Homo sapiens: one gene and its partners. The protein of the gene in region 1 purifies or fractionates together with the protein of each later gene. This does not show direct contact. Each region holds a gene or a part of one and is shown on either strand. Other genes may lie near its edges. The genes, in order: ITM2B, DCBLD2, BTN2A2 and SEMA4F.

Region 1 (6,920 bases):
TTTTTAAAATAGAAACGGGGTCTTGTTATATTGCCCAGGCTGGAGTGCAGTGACTATTCATAGGTACGATCATAACGCACTGCAACCTTGAACTCCTGGACTCAAGCAATCCTCTGGCCTCAGCTTCCTGAGTAGCTGGGACTATAGGCTTGTGACACTGCACTTAGCTTGGTGGCCTATTTTTTAATGAGGTGGTTTGTTTTGTTATTGTTGAGTTTAAAGAGTTATTTGTGTATTTTGGATTCAAGTCTTTCATCAGATACATGTTTTGCAAATATTTTCTCCTAGTCTGTGGCTTGTCTTCCCATCTTTTGATTTCACTCTTTCTATGGTTTGTGTTTCTCATCTTTTCCATCTTTTTCCTCCCTTTCTCTCTCTCTCTCTCTCTTTTTTTTTTTTTTTTTTTTTTTTTTTTTTTTTTTTTGAGACAGAGTTTCGCTCTTGTTGTCCAGGCTGGAGTGCAATGGCGCAATCTCGGCTCACCGAAACCTCTGCCCCCTGGATTCAAGCAATTCTCCTACCTCAGCCTTCCGAGTAGCTGGAATTACAGGCATGTGCCACCATGCCCGGCTAATTTTTTGTATTTTTGTATTTTTTTTTTCTTTTTTTTGAGACGAATTCTGGCTCTGTTGCCCAGACTGGAATGCAGTGGCGTGATCTCGGCTCACTGCAAGCTCCGCCTCCCGGGTTCACGCCATTCTCCTGCCTCAGCCTCACGAGTGGCTGGGACTACAGGCGCCCGCCACCACACCCGGCTGATTTTTTGTATTTTTTTTTTTTTTTTAGTAGAGACGGGGTTTCACCGTGTTAGCCAGGATGGTCTCGATCTCCTGACCTCGTCATCCGCCCGCCTCGGCCTCCTAAAGTGCTGGGATTGCAGGCGTGAGCCACCGCGCCCGGTCAATTTTTTGCATTTTTAGTAGAGTCGGGGTTTCTCCATTTTGGTCAGGCTGGTCTGGAACACCCGACCTCAGGTGATCTCCCTGCCTCGGCCTCCCAAAGTGCTGGGATTACAGGCATGAGCCACCTCACCCAGCTTCTCCCTCTCTTTCATCAGTGCAGAGCATATCCAGTCTTTTCACAAAGCAAAACAAAAATCCCAAGTGCCACAGCCAGTCAAATCAAAAGAGATCTGCATTTGTTATTAGGATAATTCCTAAAGGGTCTCGGGATATTATAGAGCCCAAGATTTGAAAAAGAAAAAAAAATGCATCTGCTAGTTCAAGGAAAATAATGATAAATTATTTTAAAATTACATGAAAATAATTTATATAAAATAAATTAAAATAATTGAAAAGCATATATAATATTGAAATAGGAAGTCGGTAAGAAAAATAAACAGTGCTTAAGTCTCTGAAGAGGTCAGTCAAAGCCTTCAAAGCTCTCACCTAGAAGAAACACTTCTTTTATGAAAGTTCAGACAAAGCCACAAGATGACCAGCTAAACTCACACATTGGGTTAAGAGAAGAGGCAACAGGAGCACATTTCAAAGGGCTTATTCAGTGACGTTGTTTCACCAAGGACCCTATACTTGTGAAAAATAAAATAAAATAAAGTTTTCCAATCATTCTGTAAAACCACAAGAAATTTCTCTGAATAAGGAATTGTTTCCTTGAGAAAGAACAGACAGAATAGAGATGTAAAGAACCTAAAAAGAAAAAAAAAATCCCTGTTGAAGCACATAATGCAAATCTATTAAAATATTTTAGAATTCAGTTCCCCACTTCCATTTTTTCCTCCCTCCTTTGGTAAGCATAAAAACAAACATGGTTGCTGGTGATATGCAGAGCTGGAATCAGATTCATCTTGCTCTCTCAAACTCAACGTCAAAAAGGAAAACAAAGGTCCTCTAAGACTCCCTTTACATTTGGTAGTTAATAGTAACTTATAACTATGTTTTTAACTTTCTTTTGTTGAGTCATGGACTCTCCTCCTCCCTGGCTCCTAAGTTTTCAGGGTCAACGGGCAACCTTTTCTAAATCACAAGACTGGATTTGCTATGTTTGGTCTTGCTCCAGCGTCTTTATTATCCCTGCTGTTGTGCACTACACAGTTCTGTAGACACATGAGATAAAATGGAGAAAAAAAACCAGGAGATTATTCCCAGACCGGTTGCCAACTGATTTTAAACTGTTGCTCACTGCAAGTACACAAAATAATGAATGGTCTTTTATTCATGAGTCTTTCAAAATAGAAATCCTGGGGCGGGGAGGATTTCTAGTTTTGTCAACCTCATTTGTTCATCCTTTGCCTCAGCTTCCTAGTCTGTTCAGTAGTGTTGTTCACGAAGAATTTTGTTTTATTTTCTTCTGTAATTCCTTTTTTCCCCCCGGAGTATAATGACAGCCAGATTCTTCTCTATCATCTACTGCAAAATGCCTTGAGTATTTTTCTACCATCTTATTTTAACACAGAACGAAGTAGGAAGGATGTACATATAATTATTTATAATCCTCCAGATCTTGCTTCCAGAAATACTTAGTCTTCAACTGTAATGTCTCAGGGAACCTATTAAACTAGGGAGCTGGAAGCAGTCGTTGACTTTGAGGAATTAGATAACATTAGATACTATGAAAGTCCAGTCCATAGAGTCAACCTCACAGAGCCGATGCCTGCACAAGGGCGACCCAGGAGTTTAAATAAGTTGCTGCAAGTATGGTTAGCTACTGTTAAAACTCACCAGAACTGGAACCTAACTCATCCTCCTCTTGGTTGAGCAGATTTCATTTTGACAGGAATTTCTGAATACCCAAAGCAAACTCAAAGTCTGGCCTGGGTTTCTATCTCAGCCCAGGATGCTTCTGAAATACATGAACAGAAGGATTTGGAGATCTTGGGCTGTTTCCCTGGGACTTATGATCTGACATTCTATGGAAATACCCAACTCCCTCCTTGAGCAGGGCCAAATCCCCAAAGATCTCAGACTGAACCCACTTTTTTCAGGGTTGGCCCAAGGCAGAGCTGACACAGCTGTAACATTCTAGAGCACACCCACAACTCTGGATGAACCAGGACAGAATGGGGTGGAAGGATACAAGATAACACATTTGTCCAAGGGGGCCGTCTGTTGACACAGTAATGAACGCAGTAACGACGGGAGCCAGTATTCTACCTCGCATTAGTTGTAAATGAAACGTCTTCAAAACATGAGAATTTTGCGTTATCCTTAATTATTTTTTCATTTTGCAGAAAAATAAAGGGACTCGTCATCGAGTACTTTGAGTCACAAATCAGCCAAGTGTGCATGTGGTTTTTTTCCAAGTACGCACAAGAGTGGAACATTTCGTTTTACGAGTGTGAGATGTTTGAAATACAAATCTGCCAAGAGCTTCCTCCACATTGGTCTGGGACTAGGCAGAACAGGCCCTGACCTCCTGAGAGAGGGAAGGAAGACCAGGCAGGTCTGAGCCAGGTAAACGCCCTTGGGTGAGGTCCGTGAAAGATAAAGTCAGATCTCAAGGACAGAGAGCTTTAAACATGTTTGTGCTCCACTGAGTCGGTTACCTAATAAGTGAGAAAATGAAGATGTGGATGCACAAAAATTCCATGGCCTTTAGGCTCGCGGTGGGGACAGGGTACAGGGAAGCGGCGGTCTGGTGCTGCCAAAGGTTAGTCCCTTGTACCCGGCGAACTCAGGAAAGTTCACTCGATTTCGCTACAAACCTGCAGCACTCGGCCTGGAGGTAACCTGGTTGGGAGCGAATTCAGAACTGGAAATTCCAGGCGGCCCAGAGGGACACCCATCCCTCTCCGAGGCGCGCCGGGATCCGGCGCCCAGCTGCGGGGCGAGGGCAGGGTCCCGCGCAGCACCCCACCCCCGGCCGCTGGCCCCGCCCCCGCCCCCGCCCCGCCTCCCAGGGGATGTGCGAGCAGTCTCCGCCCTCGCGCGGGAGCTGGGAGGCTGCGAGATCCCTACCGCAGTAGCCGCCTCTGCCGCCGCGGAGCTTCCCGAACCTCTTCAGCCGCCCGGAGCCGCTCCCGGAGCCCGGCCGTAGAGGCTGCAATCGCAGCCGGGAGCCCGCAGCCCGCGCCCCGAGCCCGCCGCCGCCCTTCGAGGGCGCCCCAGGCCGCGCCATGGTGAAGGTGACGTTCAACTCCGCTCTGGCCCAGAAGGAGGCCAAGAAGGACGAGCCCAAGAGCGGCGAGGAGGCGCTCATCATCCCCCCCGACGCCGTCGCGGTGGACTGCAAGGTCCGAGCCCGGGGAGGTCGAGGAAGCGGGTGCTGGGCCCGGCCGGGGAGGGCTGCGCGGACTGCAGCGGCAGTGCGCCCCGAGGTGGCGGGCGCGGGGCTCGCGCCGCGGGGACAAGTCCCCGAGAGAGCCCGGCGCTCCCGTTTCCTGTGGGTCCGCAGCTCCTTTGTAAGGAAGTGCGTGTGCTGGAAGCGGTGCCTGACGCGGGGTCGGGGGCTTGGGAGGCCTGGAGAGGGAACGATTGGCTAATTGTGCCGAATTCCCGGTCGTTTGTGCAGTCCGGGGAGCGTGCGTGCAGCCAGGACTTGGCTTGTTCGATCTGGGGACCGGCAGCGACAGGCACAACAACAACAACCGAGTTTGGCACTTCCTTCCCAGTATAAATAATGTACCTAAAATGGCTGACATCATTACAAGCCTAAACCTCTGTTGTTTCCCACTTTCGTTTCTAGGCTTGAACAGCACTTGGACTAAGTCCAGCAACTGTAAGCGTCTTAATTTTAAAAGCGTTTCTTTACCTCCTTTTTCCACGGCCCTTCGGTAGTGGCAGGTGAACTTCACCTGGAGAGGGGACGAAGGGACAGTCCGCCCGAAGTAGGTTTGGGCTGTCTCTTACCATTACTAGTAAAGGCCAGTAATGACTATGTGGATGTTAGTGAAAAACCAATTGTTGGCATTTAAATTGTATCAGCGTCTTTGTGAGGACTCCTGCTGCGTGAAACTAAACATGAGAAATTTGCCCCCGGGTCCCTAATAAAATTCTCCTTTATTTTACAAAATCTCCCTTTAATCCTAGGAAAATTCATGAAGTGGGGCTGTTACTGTGTTGACTTTTAGTAGGTTACGATCATATTTACTTAAATATGAGTGTAATTGTCTCATAAGTTAAAAAAGCCCACAGCCTCTTACCCAGACCCTTTTTAGGCTGCAAAAATTAGAAATTAACTGTAAAGTTATGTTGCTTATCTTATTTTTTGTTGTTGTTAGCATTTTTCAAGACCTATTATCAGTAGGGTAAATTTAGTTTTAACTTAAAAAAATTGGTGTGCCACGTATGAATAATGGGAGTTTTTATATGGACGAATGAAAATTATTGCTGAAAAACAGGCCACTAATATACTGTAAAAAATTCACAATATAATGGTAATCTAGACATCATATTATAATTTATTATATTCTGAATATAATCTATCTTCAGAATATAATGGTAATCTTACTTTCTGGAAATGTTCTGATAAAAACAGACACGTCAGAGGTTGATTTCTAAATGACTTGCCTTGCCTTGAAATAGGAACAGTGAACTGATTCCCTAAAAGGATTAAAGGTTTTGGTTTTCGTATTGGTATTGTTTTCCTGAAGCCATTGCAAACAATCTTGGTCTTTAAAGAAAATGTTTGGAATGCACAGATGAAAATTGCAGTAGCAAATTATTATGTTAGCTCTTTGTTTATCTAACATTCGTTGTACCTAAAATAGATTGAGAGTCAAGTATCCAGTCACAACAGTCTCAAATATATGTAGTCTTAATGCTATCACATATATATATATACACACATACATTTAAAAATCCTATTAACAAATATAACTGCTCCCATTTAGAAAGGAGAGAGTGAGCGAGCATTGGATGATGTCACTTCAGACAGCTTTTCTCTGTTCCGCTGTAGTGGAGATTTGAAACTCTGGACAAACATCAGAATTACATTTGCTGAGCACCATTAAATCTGACTTCTGACAATTTTTGTCATTTCTGAAATAGTGACTCTGCCAGATTCTCAAAATTGCTCACGAGTTCACCATATTTAAATTTTGTGGTCATTGCAGCTATAAGTAATCATTGGTAGCTCCGTGCTTTGTTTTCCATTTTTTATTTTCTCAGATCCTCCATATCCAAAGAAAAATACTACTGGGACTAAAGAGTGAGGGCCAGAGTCGTCTTTGTAAACCACCCAGCAGTCACGGATGAGTTGGTAGATAAAAAATGACTAATTCTTTTTCCAGCTATAAGCTGAAAGACTTCTTTAGGGGATGACAAAATATTTCTCTACATTAAAAGTAGAATCCTTATAATCAGTCAGTCGCTTAACGGGAAAAGGAAAACCTTAATGACAGACTTTTGTGAAAGAAGTTCTGATCTCTTCATTTCAGAGCTTGGGCAGTGATTACATAATGTTCTCTGGCTCCTTGCGGGTGGCTCTGTGGCAGCCACCTTGTCTGACTGCCTGGACTGGGAACAGAATCAGCCTTAATGTGTTTTGCCGAGGGCATTTCCTTTGCCTGGTTGGTTGAAAGAATCAAACCAAGCTAGTTAATGGCCTAGAACTCCTGAACAAGAATTTTTCTTATCTTTAACCCTCCCAGATCACAATATCCCGCAGACCATTGTTTTCCAAAATGTGCTCTTAGGGACCACCTGCTCTGGTTTTAAAATGCAGATTCTGTTACCTTATGCCACAAGAATTCTGATCACTCTAATCAGCTGGCTTATATAACATGCATTCCAGTACTTTTACATTGCTCCTGTCTTTCTATTTTTTTCTTCTGCAGGGTGAGAACTCTCCAGAAACAGTTCTATTACCCCATTTTTCAGTCTTATCTTTTCAGCAGCTATTAATCCTAACAGCCATTTCTATTGATAGTTTTATCTCAACTAGCTTGCTGTTTATTCTTTTCCTGCATTTTCCCCTTAATTGTTTTCACCTTCCTCCTCTCCTAGTAGGCATAAAGCTCT
Region 2 (7,583 bases), on another chromosome or scaffold:
GAGGGAATATCAGTAGACCCTAAAGAACATCTGTTAGACTGGGAAGACTGGCTTAAAAGGAATTCCACCACGGGCTGCTTTAGGGTCCTTTGAGTAAAAAATTTAATTTTTAAAAATGAGAAAATTCAAATCTCAAATAATTGTGAGTTTTCAGATGATGTATACCTAATTAGCTCTTAATTTATCAACTTAGTAAGATCGAGATTAGTAATAATCATTTATAGCTATTTTAAGCTTTTCCCTTTGCAAAATTCCTGCATACTATCATTTCATTTATATTAAGCTATGAGATAGGTATGCATGCTCACCTTAATGATGTAGAAAACTGAGGTACAAAGAGATTAAATATTAAATGATTTAGCAAAATTTACCCAAGCAATTTAGAAGAACTAAAAAAAAAAAAAGTCTTTTAATTATCAGAATCATTTCTATTTATGTTGATGTTTACATAAGATGACACTGTTAAAGAGAAATGTATTTGTTAAAATGTTCTGGTAAAAAAAAATTATATTAAACCTTAAAAAATGAAGTAATGTTGCTTGTCTGATTAGACTGGCTATTTCTTTTTCTTTTTTTTTTTTTTTTTTTGAGACAGTCTCGCTCTGTCGCCAGGCTGGAGTGCAGTGGCGCGATCGCTGCAACCTCCGCCTCCCGGGTTCAAGCGATTCCCCTGCCTCAGCCTCCTGAGTACCTGGGACTACAGGCATGTGCCACCATGCCCGGCTAATTTTTTGTATTTTAGGAGAGACGGGGTTTCACCATGTTGGTCAGGATGGTCTCGATCTCCTGACCTCGTGATCTGCCCGCCTCAGCCTCCCAAAGTGCTCGGATTACAGGTGTGAGCCACCGCGCCCGGTAGACTGGCCTTTTCTAAAAACAAGGCAATCCCTCATTTGGAAGGTAGACATGTAACTGATTCTATACTGTTCCAAGATTTTTTTTAATAACATGATACAAACACTATCAGATCCAGAAACAAGCAAAGCAGAGTACTCTGCCTATGGAGTAATATGCCCTCCTGCATCAAGGTACCTTATATTCTTTGTGTCTCAATGTCCTTACGTTTGAACTGGGATAACAATAACTATCTCAGCTGATTGTAGTGAAGATTCAAGGAGTTAATAAACCCAAACCACTTAGTCCAGTTGTTCCAGCCACAAAGTAAGCCCTAAGTGTTAGCCATATATAAGCCTGTTTTCCCCCCTACCAGGAGGGAAATACATCTCTACAGTGGAAAGAAGGATTTCACACTTTAATATATTAAATGATGATGATGTTCAGTAATTTTAGAAGACGATCTAACTAAAACCTAAATGCTAAGCATCTAAATTTTGAGTTACTCTATATAGAAACGTGTCTAGATGTAAGGGGTCAGTTTGCCAAATACATTTTTTCCTTATAGTTACAGAGATTATATTTCCACATGCCTGTCAAGGTTCGGCATCTTCTTAATGACAGGCCATGATTCCATACTTCACTGAAAACCATGAGAGCAACATAAAGCTGGGCTTAAAGGCAGAGAACAATTTTCTTTTTAAAAAACTCTCTTCCTAGCAATAAGTAACAATCCAATCCTTATCCTTCCCACTGCAATAAAATGGAAAATGCAATGGAAATATCTTTTCAAAAACTGATGCCAAACTGATTCAAAAAGTGTGGTACACTACGGGAAAACAGTACTAAAGGGGAAAAGAAATCACCCTGCATTCTCCTTCCATTATGATAAGTATTTAATAAACAGTTTTGCCTGTTTCTGGAACAGGTTTTTCAAGGATTGTAGGTGGAAAAAAAAAAAAGTTTTGTCACTTTCTGGAAAGGCTTACCTTTTTAATGTGGAGAGCTTCACTTGGGCAAATTAGCATAGCGTTGGGTCAGACCCAGTGTTTGACCAAGGCAGTCTAGACCACCAGCCTCAATGATGGATTGTAAAGAACATGTTCTGAATCCAAGACTCAGAGATAAGCAGAAACTATTCCATTCGCTTCAGAACCCGGGCTCTTTCACAAAGGATCATAATTACCACCACTTACCTTTAATAGGCTTAAGATGCTATTTAATTAACCTGCCTTCCTACAGTGTCCATCCATCCGTGCAGCTTAACTTTAGGGGTCATTACCTCCAAAGGTTCTTTTTCCTCCCCAAAATTTTCCCCAGAAGGACCTAATATCAACGAGGCTTTCATAGCAGGGTCTCACGTCCCCCTTTCAGAAAAATAAATGGCCTTGCCAAAAAGTAAAGCCGCGCCAACTTGGGGGACAGACGGGCAAGACCTTGCCTTTGCAACTCAACCCCGTGAGTACCCAGCCAGGTCCGGCCACGCACGAAAGCGCACCGCGCCTCCCTGCAGCGTCTGCAGATTTGTTCAGGGGCCAAGAGACCCGCAGCCCCGACGGAGGTTCCCCCGCCGCTCACTCCCCTGGGACCACTCACCTTGCTGGGCTCCAGCGTCCTCGAGCAGCAGGAGCAGGACAAGTAAGAGCAGGAGGAACAGAGGCATGGAGAAGGAGGAGGAGTTGGAGCAGGGAGGGAGGGAGCGGGAGAGGGGGAGCGCGGCCCAGGCGGGGGCGGCGGCCGCGGCCCGGACTTGGGGACACTGCGGGCAGCGCCTGGCTCTCACCACCGCCCGGCTCGCCATCGCGGCGGCCGGCAGTCTGCCTGCATAGTGCGGGTGCCTCGGCAGCCCCGCGCGCCTCTGGCCGCGGCACCCGACCAGGAGACGGCGGCAGCGGCGGGAGAACAAGAGGCAGCCCTCGCCTCACCCCGCGCCGGGACCCTTCCGCCCCTCACCCCGCTTTCACCTACTCCTCCTTCGTCCCTTCCCTCCGCTCCCCGCGCCGAGACCCCAGGCCGGAGCGCAGGGGAGGGGAGGGAAGGAAGCGGAGTCCTCGAGCCGCGGAGGACGGCCGCGGCGGAGCTAAGGAACGTGCCTCCCGCGCCGCGCTCCTCACCAGGGTCGCCGCTCGCCGCGCTCACCCGCGGCTCCGGCTAGCTGGCAGGCAGGCCCGCAGCCAGCTCCCTCGCGCTCCCTCTCGCGCGCGCCGGCCACGCCCCCTAGGCACCGCGGCCAATCCTCGGCCAGCTCTGGTCCGTCTCCTTCCGCGAAACCCAATCAGCATGCTCGCTCCTCGCTCGACCCGCTAGTTCTCCGGCCCATTCCTCGAGCTCCACCGCCCCTTACCTCCCTCTTCCAATCCCCTTCGGCCTTTGGAGGCGTCCCACCCGCCTCCTCCAATCCAGGTCCCGCCCTCCAGCTTCGGATCCCCGCGGCCCCCGCCCGGCCCGGGCGCCTGTTATTGTTGGGCCCTCAGCCCAAACTGATCCCGCAGAGGCGGCAGCCAGCTCGTCAGTGACTTCCGGGACGTCCCCCATCCCGCGCTCCCTGCTCCTCAGGCCCAGCTTGCTCCTTGCTCCTTTCTCCTCGCTCCTCCGACGCACATCAGACCACTGGAAGGGGGTGGGAAACCTGGATCCTGGGTTGTTTTAGCTGGGAGCTGAGTCTAAGGGACTTTTTTTTTTTTTTTAATGGCAGAGCGTGGCTTGTTTTGTTAAAACTGCCGCCAGTTGTTGCAACAGCTCCGAGTTAGAATAATAGATGCAGTGTTCAGTTTTTAATATATGTGTTCCCTGTTTTCTCTGCTCTTTTTATGGCGGGGGGTGGGGGACAAAAAAGTGTAAAACAAGATCCGTGCCGCAAAGGCAATTTAAACCTAACATCCCAACCTTCATGCAGCCATTCTACAAGGAGTTGTTGAGCACCTGCTGTCTATCTACAGAAATCTTGAAATGTGGAACAGAGATGGAAATATAGCATGCAAGTCAGAATGAAGTAAGTGCTAATTAGAGTCACAAGCAGTTTGATGGAGACTGTAAGCCTATGGAACGACAAAAAGAATTTTAGGAAAGAGGAATGCAGAGGTCTACGCAGTGATTTATTTTAGAAGAGAGTGGCCATGTAGGATGTTTTTAACAGCAGTCCCTGAAAGGACAATGGTGTCATTAGCAAATACAAAAAACTGCTAAGGTGGAACAAGTTGTGTGGGAAAGTAAGTTAATTTTGGACGTATTGAATTTGAGATGCCAACTTAGATAATAAGTGAAGCTATGTAACAGGCAGATGGATATTTTAGTCGAAAGCTCAGATTGAGAGCTTTGAAATTATGGCTCTGGGAGTCATACATAGCCATACATGTATACATATACATATGTATACATAGTCATACATAGATGTGATATTCAAAAACATGGAAGGGACTGATATCCTTCAATGAAAGTCTAAGTTGGAAAGGACTTTGGAGGTCGTATGTTTCAACTCCCCTGCATATTTCTTATACAATAATCTCTTTAACCAAATTTATTCAATTAACATTTATTAAATGCCTAAGAAACCCTATTATGCTCTAAGCCATTGTGGGCATTGGGCATAAAAAGTTTACTGAGAAGAACTTACATTCTGGAGGAGGAGGTGACATGTAAACAAACCTATTGTTATTAGTGCCCTGTTAGAGGTGTGGACTGGTGCCACAATACCACAGTGAACGGAGTTCAAAAAAACCCGTCAGTTTGAAATGCCAGTGTCTTGAATAAGAAACTAAAGTGAAAAAGGTGATCTCAGGCCAGAGGCAAAATAGGCTGGGTCACAGGCTCAATAGGGAATGGTGTTGATGGAGCTGGATTGACTACTGCTGACGTAATGGGAGGAACTGGAGACTAGTCTGGAAAAGTTAGGAGGGGCAAGATGTAAGGCAAGCTAAGAGTCAAGATTTTATTTTGTATCACTGGAAAATAACTAAAGGGTTCTAAGAAAGAATGACATTGTCAGTTTTTTTTTTGTTTTTGTTTTTGTTTTTGTTTTTTTTGAGATGGAGTTTTGCTCTTGTTGCCCAGGCTGGAGTGCAATGGCATGATCTCGGCTCACTGCAACCTCTGCCTCCCGGGTTCAAGCGATTCTCCTGCCTCAGTCTCCCTAGTAGCTGGGATTACAGGCATGTGCCACCGCACCCGGCTAATTTTGTATTTTTAGTAGAGCCGGGGTTTCTCCATTGTTGGTCAGGCTGGTCTCGAACTCCCGACCTCAGGTGATCCACCCGCCTCAGCCTCCCAAAGTGCTGGGATAACGGCGTGAGCCATCGCGCCCGGTCATTATCAGGTTTTTATTGTAAAAACCCCAATCAGCCAGTAGGGTGAGGAATACATTGGTGTAAGAGCAAGACTGGAAGCCAGGGAGAGCCAGTCTGCAGTTAAAGGGAGTGATGGTGAGTTTTTAGTGCATTAAAAGTGGGCTTGGGAAGGCGGGACCAACTAGGGGAATATTTTTAAACTTGGTGACTGATTATGTGGAGTGTAAGGAGTTGAGGAAGTCTCCAGGTTTCTGGTAGAAGGTGATGTCTTTCCCACAGTAAGGAGTACAAGAAGGAGAATTGGTTTGGTTGGATAAAGAAGTAGAAGTTAAAAATCATAAATTCAGAATTGAACCTATCAGACATGATGTGCTAATGTGGCAAGCAGTCAGTCATGAAATAAGATTTCTAGTAGTAGTGCCTGAGACAACCTATTTCATGTGGAATCACTCCTTTCATAGGACCATTGAAAGAGAAGCTTGAGGTCACAGATGTGGTGGCAGAGCAAGGTAGTGTGAATCTTAGCCTGGCATTCTATTGACTACATAGAACTGTGGCAGAGGCAGAGAATTCACCTAAGAACTAGCACAGTTATGGAGCATTTCTGGAAGAGGCAAAATTTGGTCTCTAGCAACCCCTACCCCTTTAATATAGCAGGAAAAGATCCCGACTACATACGTGTAAAGCAAGAGGAAGGAGCACTTACATTTCTCATCACTGTTTTACTTACTGTCTAGTGTTTTAAAGTTGTTAAAAGTAGAGACTAGAGAGGTGAAGAGGTTCTGAATTAGGTCACTGGCAGGGAAAAAGAGAGGGAGGTGGGAGCAAGTTGGAGTTATATTTAAAGCAGCAAAATCAGAAGGTCTTAGTGACTGATGCCATTTGACTATTTCTGTGTTATTTTATGCCTCAGCTTCCGGAGTTTCGCTTTGGAAGACAGGGTCTGGAAGTCTGGCTAGAGAACATTTGTGGTGCCCCCTATTGCTTTATGTATATAGAAAATTACAAATATAGCACAGATGTGGGAGAGGATTGATGCTGTTGCACCCATATTCTCTCTTCTGATTATTGTCTCTCTACTTAGTTGCCAAACAATGACAGAAGGCTGCTCTGAAATGATCAAAATTTTCTCCTGGGACCTCACACCAAAGGAATATAATAGGCATTCATTTCTAAGACAATGCGGGTAAAGTGGAATTCTAGTTTATATTACCTTTCTTATTCTCTGCATGCTGCTCTAGACAACTTTGTCATGATCCTTGCTTCTGGGGACTTGGTTTGTTTGGGGAATGACATCTTATGAGGCAGTGGGAGCAATACTTGTCCAGGACCATTTTACCCATGCAACCCAGATGCATAACCCAGGGGCAGAACTGGGGATTCTAATCAAGTCTCAAAGTGGATAGGTTTGGAGAGGGCCATCATTGTAGCACATAGAGGCTCCAAGAAGCTACAGTTCCTCCACAAGGCAAGCCCAGGTTCTGGCTTCTTTTTACAGGGTTTCAAAAGTGTGTATTATTTTATTGTATTTCTGGTTGTTTACTCTACATTAAGATATTTAAAAATAAAAATAGATTCTCAACCTAAATTTTAATTTTTTATCTCTCTTCCTCTTTTTCTCATTCTTTATTTCATGTTTCTTAATCAGTAAAGAATGGAAGAATAGGCCGGGCGCGGTAGCTTACACCTGTAATCCCAGCACTTTGGGAGGCCGAAGCGGGCGGATCACGAGGTCAGGAGATCGAGACCATCCTGGCTAACACAGTGAAACCCTGTCTCTACTAAAAATACAAAAAATTAGCCGGGCATGGTGGCGGGCGCCTGTAGTCCCAGCTACTCGGGAGGCTGAGGCAGGAGAATGGCGTGAACTCGTGAGGCGGAGCTTGCAGTGAGCCGAGATTGCTCCACTGCACTCCAGCCTGGGTGACAGAGCAAGACTCCCTCTCAAAAAAAAAAAAAAAAAAAAAGACCGGGTGCAGTGGCTCATGCCTGTAATCCCAGCACTTTGGGAGGCTGAGGCGGGCAGATCACGAGGTCAGGAGATCGAGACTATCCTGGCTAACACCGTGAAACCCCGTCTCTACTTAAAATACAAAAAATTAGCCGGGTGTGGTGGTGGCGGGTGCCTGTAGTCCCAGCTACTCGGGAGGCCGAGGCAGGAGAATGGCATGAACCCAGGAGGTGGAGCTTGCAGTGAGCCGAGATGCACCACTGCACTCCAGCCTGGGTGACAGAGTGAAACTCCGTCTCATTAAAAAAAAAAAAAAATGGAAGAATGAAGAAAATCAAATTAATCTATAGGGAAAAGGGGAAATATAAAAAGAATAGTTACATTTTACTATTCCTACTTTCAAATGAATCCAAGCTCAGCCAACTGCTAAGGAAATTAGAATGTAGGAAAAGAACCTGGGGGCTGGTGCCTTTGTTTCTGTCTGTGCAGAAACATCTGGGTTTCAATGAAATGGT
Region 3 (7,022 bases), on another chromosome or scaffold:
CAGAGAGAGTGACTTTTATATAAATAGATGATTTTTATTAAAGCACAACTAAATACAGAAACAAAGTTATCTATAATTCCTGCTAACTCCACAGAGAAAGACTAAGAATTTAGCTGGGAAGAAATTGGCAAGGCTTCAGCATAGAAATGCACTTAAACTGGGATTTCTAATAGTTTGTTAAAAGTGACACTAAGTGATTACCTCAGTGTTGCAGTTAGTGTATTTTGCTTTAAAAGGTATATTTCAGGACTGAAAAAAGCCTTTAAGTTGCAGAATAATTCGTGGTGACATTTCAGTCCATCAGACCAGTGGAGGCAAGGACTAGGAAATTGGGTTCTTCCCAGGGGGCCCCAAATCATAACAGGTAGGAGACCCTATCTTTGCTACTCACAAAGGCAACCTTACATCTGATTAAAACAGAATATCGTGGATGGAGGGCTTCTTGACCCATTGTCATGACTGTGTTCACAGCAGCACTGCAATGTTGCCCAGTAATGAATGGTTGTATGTGGCAGGGACCCACTACTCTTTCTCTGTAAAACCAACCCTGTCCTGGCCTTCCCTAGTCTGAATTGGGTTGCTGTAGGACTTTTTGTTTGCTTGCTTATTGTACTCTGTTTGTTGGATTGGTTGGTGGCTGATTTTTCCCTTAAATCTATTGTGTCATGCTTACCCGTATTGAACCCATGGAATGTTTTGTAGGACTTTGTTTTCCAATTTGCTGAGGTATTTTAATTTCTTTTCTAATTCAGGATTTCTGTGTGAGCCTTCAAATGCACAACTAGCTTTTTTCTCCTGACAAAAATTAAACAGAGCAGAAAGCACTAGGCTTAAGTGATTGCTTTAATTTTCTTTCTTTAACATAATTTGTTGGGAGACTTTACAAAGGAATTATTCAGGAGAAGTTTGGATGATCACGCATGGCTGAAGGGTCTCCCAGGACCATGCTTTTGCAGCTCTCTCACTCTGGGTATTCTCTTTCATTGAAGGTTCTAGTAAAGATAGAATATATTTAGGATGAGCCTGAATTATTAGGATTTTTGGTGATGATCTCTGACATTGAGGAGGCAATATGGTTATCTTAAGGATCCCAGGGGCATCCAGATATTTCTAATACATTGATGTTCTTAAAGGACTGTAAGAAAATTCTCTATTGGATGGAACCTCTGGGAGGTAAACAACTGTGAATTAGAATAAGAATTGGCTTTGCCAGCTAGTTCTGTCTATTCTCCTAAAAACCATCACCTCCTATGGAGGTAGATAGCCATGGTGATGTGAGGCCCTGAACTAGACAGAAGTGTCAGTGACTTTGGTTCAAAAAGTTTCTTAAGATTTAGCCAAGGCTGAGCATAGTGGCCCATGCCTGTAATCCCAGCACTTTGGGAGGTCAAGACAGGTGAATTGCCTTAGCTCAGGAGTTTGAGACCAGCCTGGGCAACATGGCAAAACCCCATCTCTACAAAAAAAAAAAAAAAAGAAAGAAAGGAAAAAAAGCTTCTGCCAACCTGATAGGTTTCTGTCATTAGTGTATTATTTTAGAGCTTCAGGAAATTGAGGTCTGCAGAGAAGTCATCCCAGGAGCAGAAAGTGAAATTCTCAACCTGCCTGTTGAGAATTTGGACACACCCTCCTGGAAGTGAGAAAATTAGTCTTTGCCAGAATAAATTGCACAGCAAGCATTTATAGCAGACAGATAGATGCTTGGTGCTGTGATGGGGCCTTCAGGTGGAGCATAAAGAAAAGTGTGCAATGTGATCCTTTCTCTTTGAGATCTCACAATTTATTTTGCATATTGGTTTCCTGATGTTCTCCAAAACCAAGGGTCTTTCTAGCAACCATCCATCAAGGTGCAGTAGGGGCTAAGATACCACTGCCTTTTGGCTGAGCCCTGGTCTCCCTTTCCAGGCCTTGGGTCTAAGCCCCTCATTGAAATCAAGGCCCAAGAGGATGGGAGCATCTGGCTGGAGTGCATATCTGGAGGGTGGTACCCAGAGCCCCTCACAGTGTGGAGGGACCCCTACGGTGAGGTTGTGCCCGCCCTGAAGGAGGTTTCCATCGCTGATGCTGACGGCCTCTTCATGGTCACCACAGCTGTGATCATCAGAGACAAGTATGTGAGGAATGTGTCCTGCTCTGTCAACAACACCCTGCTCGGCCAGGAGAAGGAAACTGTCATTTTTATTCCAGGTTAGTTCTCTGCCCTCTGAGACCTATCAAGTGTATGCAGGATCCTCAGCACCCAGATGGAGCCCAGAGCGGGAATGGGGGCAGCAGTGTGGGTGGAATGGTCCTGGGCCCTGAGGAGCTGGAGGCTGCAGCTGAGTTGAGACGTCTCCCCTCCTCACAAAGGGAGATTCAAAGAGTCCCAAAACACAAGAGTAGGAGCCTCTTCTCTGAGGGTAAACCTGGTCTTTTTTTTCTTGATTAGGTCTTTATGCTGCAACAGTTGTAAAATATTAAGGACAACCATCAAACCTGGAGAGTAGTGTGGGTGGGTGACTGTCTATGCTTGGCATTCCTGTATGTTGCAGCCATCCCTTCCTGTCTATGGGACTTCCCAAAGGACAGAGCTGGGGAAATTCCCTATCAAGAGACATTCATAAATGTATTCAACAAATGTTCAACAAGCATTTCTTATGTTTAAGACTGTACAGGAAACCAAGGGTCAATAATTGAACAAAATATATCAAAATTTCTCTCCTCAAGGAGTTCATATTCTAGAGAGAGACAGCGGCCGGGCACGGTGGCTCACACCTGCAATCCCAGCACTTTGGGAGGCCAAGGTGGTTGGATCATGAGTTCGGGAGTTCAGGACCAGCCTGGCCAAGATGGTGAAACACCATCTCTACCAAAACTACAAAAATTAGCCGAGTGCGGTAGCAGGCGCCTGTAATCCCCGCTGCTTGGGAGGCTGAGGCAGGAGAATTGCTTGAACCCAGGCGGCAGAGCTTGCGTCAAGATCGTGCCACTGCACTCCAGCCTGGGCAACAGAGTGAGACTCTGTCTTAAAAAAGAAAAAGAAAAAAAGGGAGCGCGAGAGAGAGACAGCAATATATGAAATAATTGAAACAAGTGATTAAATAAATAATAATCTATATATTCTATCACATGGTGACGAGCATGTAGGAAAAATTAAGCAAAGAGAAAATAGAGAGTTCCAGGGGTGTGAGGCATCAGAATTATTAACAAGGTGGTCAGGGAAGACTTCACTGTAAAGATGGAAATTGAGCAATCAAGACAAGGAACCATCAGATGCTTAAGGACTGAGCAGCCAAGGTACAGGAAGAGCATATGCAAAAGGCCTGAGGAAGGAGCTTGTCTGGCAGTTTCCAGGACTCCCAGGAGGTGATGCTGGTGTGGCTGAAATGGAGTGAGTTCAGGAAGTAGGGGGAGATGAATTCACAGAGTGATGCAACTACGTTATATATGGCAGCACAGGCCACAAACAGGCTTTGGCTTTTAGAGTGAGTGAGTGGGAAGCATTGGAAGGTTTTGAGCAAATAATTAACATGATCTCACTTGGGCTGCTCTGCTGAGAGTAGATTACAGAATAGAGCAGAACAAGAAGGAGGGCACTCTAGTATTCCAGGCGTGAGTGATGGTGGTTTGAGGCAGGGTGATGGCTGTGCTGACTCAGCATGGCTGGTTAGTTTTATGCACTCTGGTCCTTTCCATGGTGACTCCAGATGTTTCTGCTTTGCCCCCTTCTGGGCCCGGCCCTGGCAGTCACTGAGGTGTCAGCCAGTGTTGAGCCAGCATCGCTTTCTCCATCTAAGGTTTCTGAGGGAGAAGCCAACAGAACAGGTGGCTGAGGAGCTCTTCAGATGTGCTCTTAGGGGCACTCTCATCCAGATGTTCTATTTCAAACTAAATGGACTTTTCTGGCTGCCTTTTCAGAATCCTTTATGCCCAGCGCATCTCCCTGGATGGTGGCCCTAGCTGTCATCCTGACCGCATCTCCCTGGATGGTGTCCATGACTGTCATCCTGGCTGTTTTCATCATCTTCATGGCTGTCAGCATCTGTTGCATCAAGAAACTTCAAAGGGAAAAAAAGATTCTGTCAGGGGAAAAGAAAGTTGAACAAGAGGAAAAAGAAATTGCACGTAAGGAATTTGTAAAGAAAGTGTGGAAAAATAGAAAGAAATTCAAAAAGAAAAGTTAAATGAGTAGGAGGACAATTGACTGTCATAGAAAGGCCACAGCTCTCACAGGTACCGGCTTAGGGAAGAGAGAGAGGAAATGCACAGCAGCAGCCACAAGGGCTTGGAACTCTCATGTCATAAGAAGTAATCATTCAGAGCTTTCTTTCTTCCATGCTGCACACATTACATTCATTCACCTGGCTATATGCAGCACTACATGGCTGAACGAAAGTTCAGACAAAAGTCTAACAATGTACTGATACTACCCAGCCATCTGATCATACATCATTGCTGGTTTCTGACTGTTCCTTAGGCATAAACGAAGGGTGATGTTGGTGTTCATAGAAAGGATGGTTCCTACGTTGTTTAATACAAGCTCAATTTCTCTTAGTTCTTCTGTTGAAGACATGATTTTGTTTCTGTATTTTGTTTTCAGAGCAACTTCAAGAAGAATTGCGTAAGTTTAGCCTTTCCTGAACTACTCCGTGTACAATTTGTGTTCTGCTTACTTAGCAGTGTCTCGTGACATTCACCTCTGTCTGTCCCTTGCAGGATGGAGAAGAACATTCTTACATGCTGGTGAGTGCCTCTGATGTTCTCTCAGATCTCAGCTTTCTCCCCACTAGCCAGCTAACAGGACTCCTTAGAGGAGATGAGCAAGGGGCCCAGGGCTACACAGGGACCATAGGGAACTGGGGTCAGTTCATCAACGGTGTCCCAGCAATGATGCATCATGGCTCTTCTGTCAGGGAACCCCAGCAGCTCTTAATGAACCCTGCAGTTTACATCCCCAGGACCCTTTCTCTTTTGGAATAATTTAATGCATGATTATCAAAGGTTTCCCATGCATAGTAGCCTCCTAAGAGTTACATTTCAGAAGTCATTGCTCTTTGATTCTGGATCAATTTGAAATAAGATAATGCTGTCTTAGCAATTCATATCCTGGGAATGGTATAGACTGTGCACAGTTGAAGACCTATGTGAGGAAAAGGCCATAAGGGTCCCCAGTAAGCCTGATGCAATGGTGTACAAATAGGTGGCCAGAAATACCTTTCTGCCTCTAAGAGAGCACTGATATTCTGCATGTAGTCTGCCAGGGGAAGGGGTTTGGGTGAGTGGGAGGGTGAGTGGGAGAGCACAGAGAAACCAATCGCCCACTTCCAGTGAGTTCTCATCTTGTGATTCGGCACCTCTGCCTGTCAGCACCAAAGAATCCAAACTTTACCAGATACCAGGGCCCATGGACCTTTCCTCTTTGGCGAGTTTCAAAATTGCCACTGTCATTTTGGGACACAATCACAACTTGTCACAATCAGACATATCAACTTGTGGAAAAGAGAAAATCATTTTAATGCAATAGAAAGGTAGACTGAATAAGTAAGAATACATGCAGAAGGTAGAGGTTTGCAGAATGCTCAGCTCCTGGGGCTTTTCCTGTATGGGAGAAGTAATCCTGGTAGATGTCAGACTCATATTGTTAAAGCAAAACTGGATTGAAGTATTTCTTCCCTAACTTTGCCCACACATCCCTCAGGCACCAGGTTTTCTTTTGCACACATTTATTCTCCTTCTTTATCCTTTGAAGTGTGCCCTTGTCAGCCACTTAAATCAGTTGTCACCTATTAAAACAACCTATAGGACCAACGAAGAGGTCCTTCACCACCTAGGACAGTGTGTAATGATAGACTCACTTAATTGATCCATTGAGAGGTATGTGGGGGAACAATAGGAGATAAAGCTTCTGTGATGGTTTAAGCCAAGTTGGAAAGTTTCTAACTAAAGAAAGTCCCAGAGATCATATATCTTGAATAGAAAAGGGATCAGATCTTAGAATGCTGAGAAAAACTGGGAACCATTAATTTTGGCTCATTTCCTAAACTCTCTGGATTTCATAGAGCCACAATTCTTCTCAACCTGGGGGCACTGCTTCTGTCTCTGGAGAGATAGAAGTGCAGCTTCCGTAATTCTCAGGGTATGAGCTGCCTGGGATCAGGGGACCTTCATGGAAACGGCCACTACATGGGGAACCCCCTTCAGCTTTCTGAGACTTCTCTGGGGACCAGGAACCACACAATCCCCAGGGTTCCTGAGACCCCAGGCATAAACCTGAGACTTCCTCTGCAGCTGATGTGGTCCTGGATCCAGACACCGCTCATCCCGAGCTCTTCCTGTCAGAGGACCGGAGAAGTGTGAGGCGGGGCCCCTACAGGCAGAGAGTGCCTGACAACCCAGAGAGATTCGACAGTCAGCCTTGTGTCCTGGGATGGGAGAGCTTCGCCTCAGGGAAACATTACTGGGAGGTGGAGGTGGAAAACGTGATGGTGTGGACTGTGGGGGTCTGCAGACACAGTGTTGAGAGGAAAGGGGAGGTCCTGCTGATTCCTCAGAATGGCTTCTGGACCCTGGAGATGTTTGGAAACCAATACCGGGCCCTGTCCTCCCCTGAGAGGATTCTCCCTTTGAAGGAGTCCCTTTGCCGGGTGGGCGTCTTCCTGGACTATGAAGCTGGAGATGTCTCCTTCTACAACATGAGGGACAGATCGCACATCTACACATGTCCCCGTTCAGCCTTTACTGTGCCTGTGAGGCCCTTCTTCAGGTTAGGGTCTGATGACAGCCCCATCTTCATCTGCCCTGCACTCACAGGAGCCAGTGGGGTCATGGTGCCTGAAGAGGGCCTGAAACTTCACAGAGTGGGGACCCACCAGAGCCTATAGAATCAATTCCTTGGACTCACAGCCATGCAGATAAGCCCTGGCCATCTCAGCAGCCACCGCACAACCCCCCTAATGAAAGACACGCCCTCCTCCCCTCTGGTCACGTAAGAGAACATCTTCCAGCTGCCTTTTTCACACCCACTCCAGCCCTCTGCCCCAGTT
Region 4 (7,753 bases), on another chromosome or scaffold:
CCCTTATCTGAAATGCTTGTGATCAAAAGTGTTTTACATTTCAGATTTTTTCAGGTTTGGGGATATTCGCAGAATACATACTGGTTGAGCATCCCTAATTTGAAAATCCAAAATCCAAAATGCTCCAATGAGCATTTCCTTTGAGTGCCATGTTGGCACACAAAAAGCTTCAGATTTTGGAGTATTTTGAATTTTGGATTTTTAGATTAGGGATGCTCAAACTGTATAGTTCTAATAATGGTCAAAAAAAAGTTTGAAAGCTGTTTCCCTAGAGTATTGTAATTTTAATGATCCCTCTGCCCATTGTCACCTGAAACCTGGTCACTGTGGTCTCCTCCCCATCATCATGAACCTCCTTCATATCCTCCCCAGTCACCCTGACCCGCCATACTCTTAGCTAAGAAAACAAAGTGGATGATCTCCCCCCATGTCTCCCAACTCACCCCCTCCTACTACCCCTGCTGTTACATCTTTAGTTATTATGAAATCCCCCACACACACTCATAAAATCATAGATTTAATCACATGCTACAGGGTCAGGGGTCCTTCCCTCTCTTGTCTCTCACCCTGCGGGGTCTCTCCCCTGAGAAGGGCAGGGATAAAGCGAAGATGGTGTCCCGGGCGCCAACATAAAGTGTGTGGGAGGCAGGATCCACAAGGAGAACAGAGTAATTGTATGTGTGAGGGACTGCGAACCGGGTGAGACAGGAGTCAGCCTCTGGCAGGAAGAGAGGAGAGTGATGTTAGCCATCGCTTCCTAAGGGTCAAGTCCACAAGAGCAAAACCAAAGGGGCCAATTTTTGTTTTCTTCCAAGTACCATTTATTAAGCAGCCATGGGGGAGAAACACAGCCTTGACAAGTGAACCAGAGATAGATGAGGCCAGAATATTTAGCACACAATCCAGTGGGTAAGTATGCTTTTTCTATAAAAATAGAGCACTAGCTGGACACGGTTGCTCACGCCTGTAATCCCAGCACTTTGGGAGGCTGAGGTGGGTGGATCACTTGAGGTCAGGAGTTTGAGACCAGCCTGGCCAACATGGTGAAATCCCGTCTCTACTAAAAATACAAAAAATTAGCCAGGCAAGGTGGCGCGCACCTGTAATCCCAGCTATTTGGGAGGCTGAGGCAGGAGAATTGCTTGAACCTGGGAGGCAGAGGTTGCAGTGAGCCAAGATCACACCACTGCACACCAGCCTGGGTGACAGAGCAAGACTCCGCTTCAAAAAAAAAAAAAATCTAAACCTCATATTAGCATTCAAAATTCGTATCTATTTAAAGACTGGAATAAGTTGGCATGAATTTACCTTCCTAGCTCAACCTCTGGTTCTGGGGACCCTACCCTTGCACCAATACAGCTCTGCTCTACCTGCTTCCTCTGCTCAGTACCCTCAAGACTGCAGACTGGACACCAACCCATTCATTCCTAGATGTACTGATGAGTCCCGCCCACTCCTTCCTCCCACACCCATACTTACCTCTGTGCCCACTCTCTCATGCTTAGTATAAGCCCTGGATCACCTAACTTCCCCTCACATCCTCAACTCTGCTTCACCTTGCTTGCCATCTAGACATCTCTGGATGCCTGGACATCAACCCAGCCTGGCAATCTCAACTTACTTTGTGGCTATTGCTTGGGTGCAAACTGAAACCCCAGGCTCTGGCCACAACTTCGCCTTCTGGAATCACAGCATCCCTATATGGCACTAGTCTGAATTTAAACTCTAAACTACTATTAACCAGTCCAGAGTTGTTGCCAACAGGTTGTACTCTTGGCTTCACTGGTTCTGTCTGCCCAAGGTGCTAATAACACTCAATGCCCACTGAGAAGACAACAAGGTCCACGGCCATGCTCATACCCACCTCAGCAGAGTCTAAAATGTGAATCGCCCCAATGATCACTTTTAACCTTGTGACGTCTCCTAGCTTCTTCCACATCTTTTCAAAGGATCATATCCCCCTCCTCTATTTTTCCTTCTGAAGACTTGAAAAATCATTTAAGCAGAACTTTACATCAACACATTGAATGGTTTACCAATATTCAATGTAGGGAATGGGCAGAGGCAGCGAGGAACACTGAGGAAGTTAAGAGAGTTAACGTGGATCCAATAATGGGAGAATGGGAGCTGCTGTCAGAGATGTCAGGGGAGCGGGAAGGGCTGTCAGAAGGGCCAAGAGGCTCGGATGATGTATAGAACTGATAGGGAAATGAATTGGAGAAGATGGAAATGCTGACCTGGAGATCGGAATGGAAAGCTGGAGTAGAATGAAAGACTGATGGGTCTGAAAGCAGAGTGGGCGTCAAGCTGGAATGATGGACCCAGGTGTATGTGCGGGGAAACAGGGGACTAAGGGAGACGGAACTTCGAAATGAACGACCTCGGGCAGCCCCCACCCGAGCTCTGGGCCTCAGTGTCCGAGTCTGCACGGTGAGGACTGGACGCTCCTGCGGCTCCGGGAATAGGGCCCGCTGGTGCAGCCTGGGCGTGTCGTGGGAGCCGAGGCGCGAGGCCCGGGCTGGGGATGAGGGGCTGAGGGGCGCGGGAGGGATGCAGAGAGGATGCGGTGAAGTGCGAAGATCTCGCCCCGGTCCCGGCGGGGCGTGGGCGGCGTGAAACGCCATACACCAGGCTGAGAGGCCCGGGTCCGGCCGAGCGGTCTGAGGAGCAGGTGGGTGTGGGTGTGGGTGTGGGCGCGAAGGGCTGAGGGCGTGGGCGTCCGCGCCTTACCAGAGATTGGAAGCGAGGTTCTGGGCACCGAGCGGGGGACGCGGCCGGATACCGGGCCGCTCAGCACCGCCAGCAGCAGTAGCGGGAAGGGCGAGGCTGTAGGCTGCCCGGGACCCGGGCGGGGCCGCGCAGCAGAGGCCGGCATCTTTGGCTCCGCCTGGCCGCGGGTGCGGCGCAAGCTACGGCCTCTGCTCAGGGCCCCGGGGCTACTGGCCTCGGCCCCACTCGGGTCCTCTCGGCTCGGTCCGGCTCAGCCTGAGGCTGAGGGATGAAACACCGCCCGGCTCCGCCCCCTCAGAAAGGGGCCAATGGTCGGGCCTCCTTCTTCCTCCAGCCAATCGGGATTGAGTGAAGGCGGGGCTGAGGGGAGGAGAGGCCTAACCCAGGCAGAGGCGGAGCTAGACCCAGGTGAAGGTGGGAGTTCTGCCTCGGAAGTGCGCTGGGGCTGCCACTCAGGGACCTCGAGTGGCGAGTTTGCTCCGGCCACTCCAAAAACTCAAACGCCCATAGCTGTACTAATAAGGAAAACTTACTAATAAGAGGACGTGGATACACGCACCAAGTTTCTCAAAATTAATACTTTGCAAGCATTTAAGGACGGCTGCCTATGTGCTGGGCAGGCACAGTGTAACGCGCGCGCGCACACACACACGCACACACACACACACACACACACACACGATTATACAGAAAATACTAAAAATCACGGCCCTTGCCCTAGGGAGTTCACACTGTAATGGGGCTTCCAAATGTAAGCAAATAACTGCAAATAGATAATTGCAATACGAAGCAATGCACGTTTGCTATAATAACGTGCAATAAGTGTGCAGAAGGGCCAGGTTTTGCCAGAGGAAATCAGGAAGGCCTCACAGAAGAGGTGACATTTGAACTGATTCTTCTAGGGTTGGTAGGCCTTTGAGGGCGAGGAACAAAGACTGCCTATGGGCATATCCACTTGGATATCCTATAAACAAGGCAAGCATAGGTCCTGAGGATAACTCACTATCTCCTCCATCCCAACCCTAGCTCCTTCTTTTTTTTTTTTTTTTTTTTTTTTTGAGACGGAGTTTCGCTCTGTCGCCCAGGCTGGAGCGCAGTGGCGCGATCTCGACTCACTGCAAGCTCCGCCTCCCGGGTTCACGCCATTCTCCTGCCTCAGCCTCCCAAGTAGCTGGGACTACAGGCGCGCGCCACCATGCCCGGCTAATTTTTGTATTTTTAGTAGAGACGGGGTTTCACCGTGTCAGCCAGGATGGTCTCGATCTCCTGACCTCGTGATCCGCCCGTCTCGGCCTCCCAAAGTGCTGGGATTACAGGCGTGAGCCACCGCGCCCGGCCCCTAGCTCCTTCTTCAAGCACTTAGTCTGCACTTAGTAGGTAGTCTTTGCTTTCTCCTCTTTCACCCCCATTGTATTAGTTATTTAGGCTGCAAAACAAATGTAACAAATTAACCTCAGAATTTGGTGGCTTAAAACAAACAAACAAAAGACATGGTCCCTGAATTCGAATTGCTTAGCCTGGAGGGAAAATCAGACATTTGGAATAAACTTTTATTATCTCTCACAATCTCTCTGCGTCAGAAATTTAGGAGTAGTTTAGCTAGGTGGTCTGGCTTCCAGTCTCTCACAAGATTACAGTCCAGATATCAAACGGGGCAGCAGTCCACTGAAGGCTTGCCTGGGGCTGGAGGATCCACTTCCAAGATGGCGGACTTCCATGCCTGCCAAATTGGTAGTGGCTGTTGGCAGTAAGTGAAGGTTGTTCTCCACATGAATTTCTCCATGGGGCTGCTTGAATGTCTTCACAAAATGGGGTGACTTCCTCAGAGCAAGTGATCCAAAAGAACAAGGCAAAAGAGCAAATGATATATTTGTGACCTAGCCTCAGAAGTAACACACAATCTCTCGGCCATATTCTACTTGTCACACAGGGCAGCCCTGATGCACTGTGGAAGGGGACTTCACCAGGTGGTACAGGGATTTCACTGGGAATACAAGGATTTCAGCCTCCTTTCTTGGAGACTAGCTACCATGCCCATATGTAAGAAATCACTATGTCCTTATAAATCTGACTAAAAAGTAACTTAAATCCATCCTTTTCTTTCCATTATCATCATAGTTCAGGACATCATCATCATTCACCTGGACTGTGTGATAATTTCATTTAAAAAACAAAAACCTAGCCTCCAGTCCCTCCCCTTCCAGACTGCCATCAGGATAATCTTTCTAAAGTGCAAGTACTAGTTCTAGTTTGTTCTTTCAACAGTTATTAAGGGCCTAATATGTGCCAGGCATTTTACTAAGTACTAGAGATAAGATTAAGACATGGTCCGTTGGCTGGGCATGGTGGCTCATGCCTGTAATCCTAGCACTTTGGGAGGCTGAGGCAGGAGGATCACTTGAAGACGAGTTCGAGACCAGCCACGTCAACATAGCAAGACCCTGTCTCTGCAAAATAATAATAATAGCAAGGCCTGGTGGCACACACCTGTAGTCTCAGCTACTTGGGAGACTGAAGCAGGAGGATCACTTGAGCCCAGGAGTTCAAGGCTGCAGGGAGCTACGATCACACCATTGCACTCTAGCCTGCCAAAAAAAAAAAGCCATTGTCCTTGAATTCAAATTGCTTAGCCTAGAGGGAAAATCAGGCATTTGGGATCAGTACTTCTAATCTTCTCTCTGAAATCTTCTTTCTAAAACCAACCTCAACACAATGGAACCCCTGCCCCCCGTCTGAGTTTCTTCCTCTAGCCCACTATATGCCTTTCCTAAGCTGCTTCTCAGCAGTCTAGTCTAGGCCTTAGTCCCTTCTCTGAACATGACTTATTGGTTGTCTTTTGATTTTTTTAATATTTTTTCAATTTTTTTCACAAAACATACAATAAGAGGTTCTTATTGTGCAACCTAATTGCACTTAAGTACATGCATTCATGTACCCAATGTACATATTAGTGAGTTAAATTTTTAACAAAGTCATACTTACATTATATTTATCTTTACTTCAGGAGCTAAATTCTCATTTTTTTCCCTATCATGTTGCATTTTATTCTATTCCATTTTTTTAAATGCTGGTTGCAGCCCACTAAATTGATTTTACTATTCATTAATGAGTTGAGATCCCCACTTTGAAAAAAAAAATCACTGTTCTATGTAGTCTCATTCATACTAATTTAGTTAATAATGATTTTCTAAATCTACATTTCTAGGCCATATCTTTCTCTTCAGCTTCTGACACACACATCCAAGTGCCTAGTGGACATTTCCACACAGTGTAACCACAGGCACCTTGATTTCAATATGTCCAAAACTGAACTATCGTCCCCACCCTCATAGCATCCTGGTAATTGTGTGGATGCTAAAACCAATGTTCCCCATAGCACTACTGTCTTTCCAGCTGTCTAAGCCAGAGACTTTGCATTTGTTTATTCAATAAGTATTCATTGAATGCCTACTATGTTCTAGGCCCTGTCATTTTGGATTCCTCTTAATCAAATCAATCATAAAGGCCTGTTAATTTTAACTCCTAAATACTTCCTCCCACATCTCCGCATCCCCTCTGCCAATACCCTAATTCAAACAACTATCTTCTCTTGCCTGGGCTCCTTCCTACTCTTGTCTTGTCCCTATGCCCTGCTGCCACCACCCCAATTTCAGCCCCCAATCCATTCCTTTTAAGGCAGGGAGGCAGGGAGAATGTTCTCTCCAGTACACAAATCAGATCATGTCACTCTTCTGCTTAAACACTTCAGTTTATCTCCCCATTCCAGCCCACCCCGCCTTTGCTATGAGATAAGATCCGAAATCTTTAATATAGTCCACAGATCGTATATGTTCTGGCCCTTTGCCTATCTCTCCTGCTTCATCTTTGACACTCCTCTTCCACATACTATACTCCATACTGGAGTATAGTTCAGCAAGACTGTTGGGGAATCATCAAGCCAATGTTGCCCATTAGAGGAGTGCTGTGTGAGGAGTGCTGTGTGAGAAGTGCAGTGTTTCCCAGGAATGGGTCTGCCTTAGTATCTCCACCACATTCAGTCAGTGGCTGGGAAGATGGCCTCCATGCAAATGTGGCAGATTTCTTTTTTCTTTCTTTTTTTTTTTTTGAGACAGAGTTTTTGCTCTTGTTGCCCAGGCTGGAATGCAGTGGTGCAATCTTGGCTCACCGCAACCTCTGCCTCCCGGGTTCAAGTGTTTCTCCTGCCTCAGCCTTCCGAGTAGCTGGGATTACAGGCATGCACCACCATGCCCGGCTAATTTTGGATTTTTAGTAGAGATGGGGTTTCTCCATGTTGGTCAGGCTGGTCTCGAACTCCTGACCTCAGGTGATCCACCCGCCTCGGCCTCCCAAAGTGCTGGGATTACAGGCGTGAACCACGGAGCCCAGTCGTGGCAGTAGATTTCTAAGGCAGCAGCTGATGCCCTTGGTCAGTTACACTCCTTGTAGTTTAAAGTCTGCAAGGTGCTTTCTCATGACCATTATAGTTTATCACCCTCAGAAAACAATTCTTATGTCATAGTCCCCATTTCTGGTACAGTTCTTTGCATATTTTTAATAAATGCTATAGAGGGTACGGAAAGAAATTAATAGTAGGTAGGAGCAATGGGTGGTATGGTTTGGAGTGAGGCTAGTGCTCAAGTTTGAATGCGTCCCCCAAAGTTCATTTGCTGGAAACTTAGTACCCAATGGAATAGTGTTCAGAGGTGGGGCCTAACAAGAGGTGATTAGGCCATAAGGGCTCTGCCCCCATAAATGAATTAATGTCATTATCTTGGAAATGAGTTAGTTATTGAGAGAGTGGGTTTGTTGTAAAAGTGAGTTCAGCTCCCTATTGCTGTCTTGCTCTTTTGTACCCCTTGCCCTTCTGCCTTCTGCCATGGGATGACACAGAAAAAATGCCCTCACTAGATGTGGGATTCTCAACCTTGGAATTCCTACCCTCCAGAATTTAAGAATACATTTCCTTTATTTACAAGTTAGTTGTTCTGTGGTATTCTGGTATAGCAACACAAAGGGGAGTAAG

What was found.
Region 2: the proteins of ITM2B (region 1) and DCBLD2 purify together in Homo sapiens (affinity purification with mass spectrometry; 3 studies listed by BioGRID and IntAct, with this or other methods). This does not show direct contact.
Region 3: the proteins of ITM2B (region 1) and BTN2A2 purify together in Homo sapiens (affinity purification with mass spectrometry; 3 studies listed by BioGRID and IntAct, with this or other methods). This does not show direct contact.
Region 4: the proteins of ITM2B (region 1) and SEMA4F purify together in Homo sapiens (affinity purification with mass spectrometry; 3 studies listed by BioGRID and IntAct, with this or other methods). This does not show direct contact.

What each region holds. Positions count from the first base shown.
Region 1 is NC_000013.11:48,229,286-48,236,205, forward strand, and holds the start of ITM2B (integral membrane protein 2B), read left to right. Parts: upstream 1-3,920; 5' UTR 3,921-4,075; coding exon 4,076-4,192; intron 4,193-6,920. UniProt on the Homo sapiens protein: Plays a regulatory role in the processing of the amyloid-beta A4 precursor protein (APP) and acts as an inhibitor of the amyloid-beta peptide aggregation and fibrils deposition. Plays a role in the induction of neurite outgrowth.
Region 2 is NC_000003.12:98,898,692-98,906,274, forward strand, and holds the start of DCBLD2 (discoidin, CUB and LCCL domain-containing protein 2 precursor), read right to left. Parts: upstream 3,005-7,583; 5' UTR 2,636-3,004; coding exon 2,431-2,635; exon of another isoform or gene 1-2,430.
Region 3 is NC_000006.12:26,386,108-26,393,129, forward strand, and holds part of BTN2A2 (butyrophilin subfamily 2 member A2 isoform a precursor), read left to right. Parts: intron 1-1,905; coding exon 1,906-2,187; intron 2,188-3,897; coding exon 3,898-4,104; coding exon of another isoform or gene 4,105-4,163; exon of another isoform or gene 4,164-4,579; coding exon 4,580-4,600; exon of another isoform or gene 4,601-4,695; coding exon 4,696-4,722; exon of another isoform or gene 4,723-6,038; coding exon of another isoform or gene 6,039-6,188; exon of another isoform or gene 6,189-6,267; coding exon 6,268-6,860; 3' UTR 6,861-7,022. UniProt on the Homo sapiens protein: Inhibits the proliferation of CD4 and CD8 T-cells activated by anti-CD3 antibodies, T-cell metabolism and IL2 and IFNG secretion.
Region 4 is NC_000002.12:74,649,499-74,657,251, reverse strand, and holds the start of SEMA4F (semaphorin-4F isoform 1 precursor), read right to left. Parts: upstream 3,006-7,753; 5' UTR 2,876-3,005; coding exon 2,731-2,875; intron 719-2,730; coding exon 567-718; intron 1-566. UniProt on the Homo sapiens protein: Probable cell surface receptor that regulates oligodendroglial precursor cell migration. Might also regulate differentiation of oligodendroglial precursor cells. Has growth cone collapse activity against retinal ganglion-cell axons.